2 separate regions of the Homo sapiens genome follow, and region 1 is linked to region 2. Evidence: fine-mapped expression QTL. A gene starts in region 2. The other region holds a variant in brackets. All regions are shown on one strand. Distances are from middle to middle.

Region 1 (4,513 bases), 49 kb before region 2:
CTGGGTTCAAGCGATTCTCCCGCCTCAGCCTCCAGAGTAGCTAGGATTACAGGCATGCGCCACCACGCCCAGCTAATTTTGTATTTTTAGTAGAGACAGGGTTTCTCCATGTTGTTCAGGCTGGTCTCAAACTCCCGATGTCAGGTGATCCGCCAGCCTTGGCCTCCCAAAGTGCTGGGATTACAAGCGTGAGCCACCGTGCCCTGCAAGCCCAGCTAATTTTTGTATTTTTTGTAGAGATGGAGTTTCACCATGTTCCCCAGGCTGGTCTCGAACTCTTGAGCTCAAGTGATCTGCCCACCTTTGCCTCCTAAAATGCTGGGATTACAGGTGTGAGCCACCGTGCTGGGTGGCTGGGCCATTCTTGCTCTTCTGAGTGACTTCCCTTGCTCACCAGATGAGGGAAATGGCTCATGGAGCCAGTCTGGTGATCCTCCCTGTGGCGGGGAGGGAGGCACGCCCCACTTTCCCCAGCTGTTTCTGAGCCTCATGACTGTGAGCCCTGAGAGGGACCTAAGACCTTTGTTTCCCCTGCTAGTCCGTGGTGCGGTGTCTGAGCCTGAGCTCTTAGGGCAGCTTCCTTCCTAGGGCCGTGCTGGAGCCTGCTAGTACTGCCTAGCCAAAGCCCGATCCTTACATTTTCAGGAATTTTGTGAGGTTACTCGTTGGTAGCTTGAAATTGGCCAGCTGGCCATAGTAGGAATACTTACAACCACATACATCAGCAAACGCCATAGATCAAGGGCTTCCCACTCCGAGAGCTGGCTGTTAACCACCGCACCACCACTACTGACTTACTGGGGTGAGGCCCAGTCATTACTTTTAGTCATTTTTTGGGTCTTGGAGAGACAGAGTTCTTTCCTATCTGGGCTCCTGTCCCCTCCTCCTGGCTTCTAGGTAGAAGGTCCTGTGGGCCTATGGGGAGCCCCCATCTTACTGCTCCAGCCAGCTTAGGATTTCAAGCCAGCAGGGCTGGAAAATGATTCCAACCTTCGGCTTTACCCTCTCACTCTACAGCTATCAGAACCGTGGGGTGCAGAGGTGAAATGACTTTCCCTGTGTGGCAGAGCTGGGAGAGAACCCAGGTCTCCTGAACCCCAGTCTACTGTTGACGAGCCCCTACAGAGTGGACGCCTCAAAGGTGCTCATTTCCTGTGCCGATCTGACTGTGTACTCACAGTACCTTCCATGCTCAGCCTGCAGGCATGGCTCAGCCGCCCTTCCTGCCTGTCTTCTTCTGGTCTCATAGACCGTTCCCTGCCCTTTCACTCTATGAGCCCATCCCAACTGCTTTCTCTTCTTTTTTAAAATTGAAATTTAATTATAAAAGCAATATTCATATCACCTCCTTATAAAAAATTAAACCAGCAAAATCCATCATTTTCATCAGTAGGTAAATGCACTAAGAGTGCTTGTACCTGTGCCCCAGGAGACATATGCAAAAATATTCAAGCACTACTGTTTGTAATTCCAAAAGAAAAAGCAAGCAAGCAAGCAAGCTGCTGTGGTGTCTCACACCTGTAATCCCAGCACTTTGAGAGATGGAGGCGGGCAGATGGCTTGAGCCCAGGAGTTTGAGACCAGCTTGGGCTACACGGCAAACCCCCATCTCTACTAAAAATACAAAAATTAGCCGGGCGTGGTGGCACATGCCTGTAGTCCCAGCTACTCTGGAGGCTGAGGCATAAGAATAGCTTGAACCTGAGAGGCGGAGGTTGCAATGAGCCGAGATCGCGCCACTGCAAAAGAAAGGAAGAAAAGAAAGGAGAAGGGAGGAAGGGAGGAAGGAAGGAAGGAAGGAAGGAAAAAGAAAGAGAAAGAAAGAAAGAAAGGAAGAAAGAAAGAAAGAGAAAGAAAGAAAGGAGGAAAAGAAGGGAGGGAAGGAGGGAGGAAGGAAGGAGAGAACGGTAGTTGGATAATAAATTGTTGTATATTCACCCAATGGAATGCTTTAGAGGAATGAATATGAACCACCTGCATGTAGCCATGTAGATTAATTTGCATGAATGTCAAAAATATAATATTGTACATCGTGAATGTACTTCATGCCCCCTGAATTATACATTTAAAAATAGTTTAAATGGTAAATTTTATGTATATTTTACCACAATATAAATAAATAAATAGATAGAAAAACATGTTAAGTGATAGTGCACAAACACACAGAAGCAAGGCATAGAAAAGTACATACGATTCCATTTATAAAGTTCAAAAACAGGCAAAATGAAGCAGTTTGCTGTTCAGGGTGCACACAGATGGTAGAACTAGAAAGGAAAGTGAGGAAGTGATAGACACAAGCCAGAGCTGCTTCCCCCGGTGAGGAGGGAAGGTGTGA[T/C]CAGGGCGCTTCGAAGGTTCTACTAATCTTCTGATCTGAACGTGGGTTTTCAATGTGTTATTTTTATGTACTATTTTACATATCTTAGTTCACAATAAAAAGTACAAATTATATTTTAAAAATTGGAGGTGAAAATGAAAAAAAATGGAAAATTATAGAGAAGACTCAGGTTCCCTTTGATCAATCTCCTCCCCCAATCCCTGGTCCTCTCCCTACCTCCTTAGTGTAGGCACTGTTTTCAGATTATTGAGTATTCTTCCAGAACTTTCCTAGACAAAAAAGTTATGTGTGTTGTTGTGGGTGTTTTTTGTTTTTTGTTTTTGTTTTTGTTTTTTGACAGAGTCTCTGTTGCCAAGGCTGGAGTGCAGTGGCACATTCTCAGCTCACTGCAGTCTCCACCTCCTGGGTTCAAGTGATTCTCCTGCCTCAGCCACCCAAGCAGCTGGGACCACAGGTGTGCACACCCGGCTAATTTTTGTATTTTTAGTAGAGATGGGGTTTCACCATGTTGGCCAGGCTGGTCTTGAACTCCTGACCTCAATTGATCCAGCTGTCTCAGCCTCCCACAGTGCTGAGATTACAGGCATGAGCCACTGTGGTAGGCATATGTTTATGTTTTTAAAAATTATTTTCTTTCCTTCTTATTTTTTGAGGTGGAGTCTCGCTCTTGTTGTCCAGGCTGGAGTGCAATGGCATGATCTCGGCTCACTGCAACCTTCACCTCCTGGGTTCAAGCAATTCTCCCATCTCAGCCTCCCGAGTAGCTGAGATTATAGGCGCCCCCCACCACATCTGGCTAATTTTTATATTTTAGTAGACATAGGGTTTCACCATGTTGGTCAGGCTGGTCTTGAACTCCTGACCTCAGGTGATCCGCCCATCTCGGCCTCCTGAAGTGCTGGGATTATAGGCGTAAGCCACTATGCCCGGCCTGTTTGTTTGTTTGTTTGTTTTTGTTTTTGTTTTGAGACAGAGTCTCGCTCTGTCACCAGGTTGGAGTGCAATAGCATGATCTTGCCTCACCGCAACCTCCGCCTCCCAGGTTCAAGCGATTCTCCTGCATCAACCTCCCGAGTAGCTGGAATTACAGGTGCATGCCACCATGCCCAGCTAATTTTTGTATTTTTAGTAGAGATGGGGTTTTGCTATGTTGGCCAGGATGGTCTCGATCTCCTGACCTCGTGATCCACCTGCCTCAGCCTCCCAAAGTGCTGGGATTACAGGCGTGAGCCACCACGCCCGGCCAGCCTGTTTTAAAAAATTATTTTATTTTCTACTTAAAATGTTATTAAGCAATAATCAAATATTTCTTACTCTGATTTCTTGGCCCCACTCCTCCTGAGGATTCTCTGCTTGAATTTTTCAGAGCAAGGGCGACCCCTGTCTTAGGAGAGGTAGGAGAGTGCCTCATGGACAGCATCTGGTTGTTCCTTCTCCCTGGCAAGGGGCCTGCCTCTCTTTTTCATACCTGAGATGACCGACAGCAGTAACATCTGACTTTGTCTTTTCCTTTCTTATTTGGGGCATCGCAGGCTACCTATATTTGCTGAAGGAAATCTTACACAAAGCTGCGATAATTCTAGCACAGAGCAAGAAATAGAGCCTAAGGAACAAACCACCCATTTTCTCTCCACTCGGTAAAAAATTATCTCTGGGAAATGAAATAGCCCAAGTCTGGCAGTTCCATGTTCTTCTTCTTTTTGTGTTTTAGAGACAGCCTTGCTTACTCACCCAGGCTGGAGTGCAGTGGCACAATCATGGCTCACTGTAGCCTCGAATTCCTGGGCTCAAGAGATCTTTCTACCTCAGCCTCCAGAGTATCTAGGACCAGAGGTGCACACTACCACGCCTGACTGATTTTTAATTTTATGTAGAGACTGGGTCTCTTTATGTTTCTCAGGCTGGTCTCAAATTCCTGGCCTCAAGAAATCCTTCCACCCCAGCCTCTCAAAGTGCTGAGATTACAGGCATGAACCACTGCCCCTGGTCCATGTTCTTCTTATATTGCTTTTCTAAAGTACTTCTTTTTGCAGATAGAGAAAGGCTTGTTAACTGGCCTCATGACTCAGCCTGCCAGGCACAATTGTCCATCGGCCCCAGCACAGTTGTATTTTTGTGTTTGTTTTGTTCTTTCCATAAATGATATACAGTATGTATCCTACGATTTGCTTTTCGTGC
Region 2 (4,000 bases):
TGTATTTTTAGTAGAGACGGGGTTTCACTGTGTTAGCCAGGATGGTCTCGATCTCCTGACCTCGTGATCCGCCCACCTCGGCCTCCCAAAGTGCTGGGATTACAGGCGTGGGCCACCACACCCGGCCTACTGCCTACCATTTTGCCCAAGCTTCCCAGTACTGAGAAGAACCACCTCCTGTGTCCCCTGCACCTGTCCCAGTTCCATGTCCCTCCAGAACCCTTCTGTGAGCCTCTGCATGGAATGAGAAGAGGAATTTTAAGCCAAGGATCTGGGGGGTCGCCGTGGACACAGTACCATATTCCCTGCTCCCACTTGAGATCCCTGGCACCCAGCCTCCTTTTCACATCCAGCCCCTCAGGGACCTCTGACCTTTGAGCTCGGCTTCAGTGCCAGGCGGGCAGTCAGAAAGTAGCTCGCAGTGTGTACACTCGAGGGCCCAGGCAGCACAGAACATTCCCGGCTGGCAGCGGCACTGGGTCTTCCGTTTGCTTGTGCAGGGGGCAATCTCCTCGAGGCCCATCACTGGCGGGGAGACGGGAGGGCTCAGGGAGGGGCCAAGCTCCAGGGGATCCAGCCCCCCCGCAGGCACATCCCCACTCACCTGGGTCACAGGGGCGGCACAGCTGGCAGATGGTCAGGTAGTTCCAGTGCTCGTTGTAGGAATTCTCGGCACATGTGGCACAAACTGTGTCCCGGATGCGGCTACATTTAGCTGAGACATAGGTGCCTAGAACGTGAGTGGAGCAGTAGAGCCTCAGGAGACGAGGCTCCACCCTCACCTCCGCTGCCTGTAGTGTGACCCTGGCCTTTCCCTCGGTCTCTCTGGCCCCCCATCATCCTGCCAGTGGCCCTCCGGCTCCCTCTCAGTGAGGTAAGGAAAGAGGAGGCCCAGTGGGGAGGGCCAGTCCCATCTCCTCCACGTGATGTCCAGGGTTTCCCACGCTCGTCTCCAGCAGCCAGTTTTCCTGGGGGACAGTGCCCACCTTCCCTCTGAGGCCGCGAGGGGGCTGGAGCCCCCGTGACCCACTTCCGAGGCCCAGGTTCGTCCTGCCATTGCCTCTCACCTGGCGGGCAGCGGGAGCAGCAGATGCGGTGCTGGGGCTCATAGTATTCCTTTTCCTGGTCCCTGCAGGTCTGGTTCTCCGACGCATATGGAGGCACCTTCAAAGGGAGATGGAGAAGAGGAGAGAAGAATTAGTCAGGGGTCAGCTTGGGAGGGCAGAGGGAATGGAGCGACGGCTGCCCAGATCCCTCTTGCCCACCCTCGCCCACTCCTACCAGGCCCCTTCCTCACCGCCTGGGGCTGCGATGCTGCCAGGAGCCCGAAGAGGCCCAGCACCAGAGGCCCCCAGGCCAGGCCGGGGGCAGAGGTGGCCCAAGGCAGGAGCATGGCGGCCACTCGGCCAGGCGGCCAGCAACGTGGGGGCCTGGGAGGAAGGCAGGAGGCCCGACGTCCTGGGCAGCGGTGGCGGCGGCTGCCCGAGCCCAGAGCCTGGGACGGGACTCAGGGCCGATGTGCACCCCAGGGCCGGGAGCGGCCAGGCCGGGCCTCCAGGGCTCCCATGGCGGAGCTCAGGAAGTGGGAGTGGAGCGAGCTGGCCGCGGGGCGGGGACAGGGAGCGCTGGGAGCCAGGCCGGCCTGTCGCAATCGCAGCCCAGGGAAGAGGAACAGGCTTGTCTGCCTCGATGCGGGGCGGGAGGGGCGGCCGGGAAAGCACGTGAGGGCCGCGGGGCCGGAACCGGCCTCCTCCCTTCTTCGGAAGCCCGATCGGGAGAGCGGACTGCGGACAGCCCTGGCCCAGCCGAGGGAAGGGCGGCGGGCCCGGGGTCAGCCCTTGGACAAGCCTCGCAGGGAGAGCAGAGGGAGTTCCAGAGAGCGCAAGGGACAGCTGGGTGCGGGATCTGGAAAGCGAGGGGCCCAGGACGGGCAGTCATGGAGAGGGCAGGGCGCGGGGACTGCAAGGCCGCAGAAGCAGCTCTGAGACCGAGGAGAACCGGCTGGCAGATGCCCGGGTTCCTCCCCCGTTGTCCTGCCCTACTGTGGGAGTTTTTCAGACAAATTACAAGGGACTAGCAAATCAGCCAGCCCCCCACGCTACCAACCCAGCCCAATCCGCACAGGAGTGGGCACAGGTCACCTAGGAGACCCTTGAGAGCTGTGCAGCTTGCCCTGCTCCCTGTCCTCAGGGAACCTCCCTCCCAAAGAGAGGGGGAGGATATGCGGAGGGGAGTCCTGGGGCCAGCAGGCTGGACCTGGGCACTCAGTCCCTCTGCTCTGGCTTCTTTGCCCATGAACCTTCAAACCCCTTAGAACTGGAGAAAGCTGAGAGCCCACGCAGTCCAGCCCCCTCACCTTAAGCATGGAGAGGGAGGCTAAGGGTGATACATAAGGGAACCGGGATTCCAGGGTGGCCTGGTCTCGTTCCTGCCCTGTTTCATCCTCCCATCTCCCTCAACCCAACACCCCACCCACCCGTGGAGTTACTTGCAGCTGCCCCCTTTTACACGTGGTTCTCTGGTCCCCAAGTTTCCGTCTTCCTAACTCCCACCTGTCCTTGAGGCTTCACTGAGGCTCTGGAAGGCAACCTCTGCCCTAGGTTGCACAGTCCCCGTGAAGACTGCCCTCTGTACCTGGCTGTCTTGTTTGCTTCCCACCAGGCTGTGAGTGCCACCATGGCCCAGGCTGAATCTTCAAGTCTGTGTTCCCCATGCTTAGCAGAGTCTGGCACATACCATGTGCCCAATAGGTATTTATGGAATAAATGAGTGATGGCCACATCACAGAGCCAGTCCACCGCAGAGCCAGCTACAATCTGGGTCTCCTGATGTCTAGGTCCCAACTCATTCCAGCAGTCCTGCCAACTCCTTGTGGCTCAGGGATGTCTCCCTTGGGATGAGGGGCTAACCTCTCTTGAGATAGGTCACTTGGGCACTATCCCCCTCCCTGAAGGACTCTGTTCAGCACTCGTCCTTACACTGGTCTGTCTAACTTCAGGTCTGATGTCTGGACAGGTGCAGGTGATGGGAAGTGTGCATGGGGAGGAGAGGTCACAAAAGGGGGAAAGGACCTGCCTAGGCTGTAGGCATTTCACTCTGTGAGGCTCTCTCCCCTCACCTGGTGCAGGCAGCTCACCGTACAGATGGGCCAAAGATGGCTGGAAAGGGCAGAAGTATCAGAACAGCATGCACTGCGCGGGGCTGCTGAGCCTTCCAGGGCCCTAGCGCTGGGGGCTGGGATGAGAGTCCCTGCTGAGCTCTTAAACGCGTAAAGGAATGTGTGTGTAGCGACCCTAGGTCCTTTTTTCTCTCTCTTCTTTTTACTTTTTACTGTGGAAATTCCACATGCAAGATAATATACCAAAAGAGAAAAAGTAATATTGGGAGTCTCCCATATACTCCTTACCCAGCTTCAACTCACTGTCAGTTTCATTTATTCTGTATACCCCCTCCCCCACCAACGCACACACTCTTCAAATCCCTCATTATTATTTTGAAGTAAATCCCAGACATCATATCATTTCATTTGAAAATATTTCAGGATTTTACCCTAAAAGACAGGGACTCTTTCTCTATTCTATTTTTCTTTTTTTCCCCACCCTGTCTTATGCTGCTGAGACCCTTTCTTTTAATAGAGGTGTAACATATAATACAATGAAACCGTAAGGTACACTGATCTTACAGATACAGCTCAGAGAGTCTTCACTTTTGTGTATTCTTGCATATCCCCCAACTGGTCCAGAACACCTCTTCTCTTCTCTTCTTTTCTCTTTTCCTTTCCATACAGAGTCTCGCTTTGTCGCCCAGGCTGGAGTGCAGTGGTGCAATCTCGGCTCACTACAACCTCTGCCTCCCAGGTTCAAACAATTCTCTGCCTCAACCTCCCGAGTAGCTGGGATTACGGGCGCCTGCCACCATGCCTGGCTGATTTTTGTATTTTTAGTAGAGATGGGGTTTCGCCATGTTGACCAGGCTGGTCTTGAACTCCTGATGTTGTGAT

What was found. PIP is the estimated chance that this variant, and not a neighbour inherited with it, causes the effect.
Region 1: its variant is the best candidate, but not a certain one, in a credible set for the expression of LTBR in whole blood (TOPMed, PIP 0.53).

Annotation. Positions count from the first base shown.
Region 1 is chr12:6,430,981-6,435,493 of GRCh38, reverse strand. No RefSeq gene overlaps it. Among named protein-coding and RNA genes, the nearest start is that of CD27, 12 kb to the left of the region's middle. RefSeq lists an enhancer at 586-1,086. The variant T/C (reference allele first, on the strand shown) is at 2,336.
Region 2 is chr12:6,381,752-6,385,751 of GRCh38, reverse strand. LTBR (lymphotoxin beta receptor) reads right to left here and starts at 1,590. Exons shown (of 10, transcript NM_002342.3): 1 at 1,298-1,590; 2 at 1,068-1,164; 3 at 605-730; 4 at 373-525. The coding sequence starts at 1,393. RefSeq lists an enhancer at 1,672-2,537.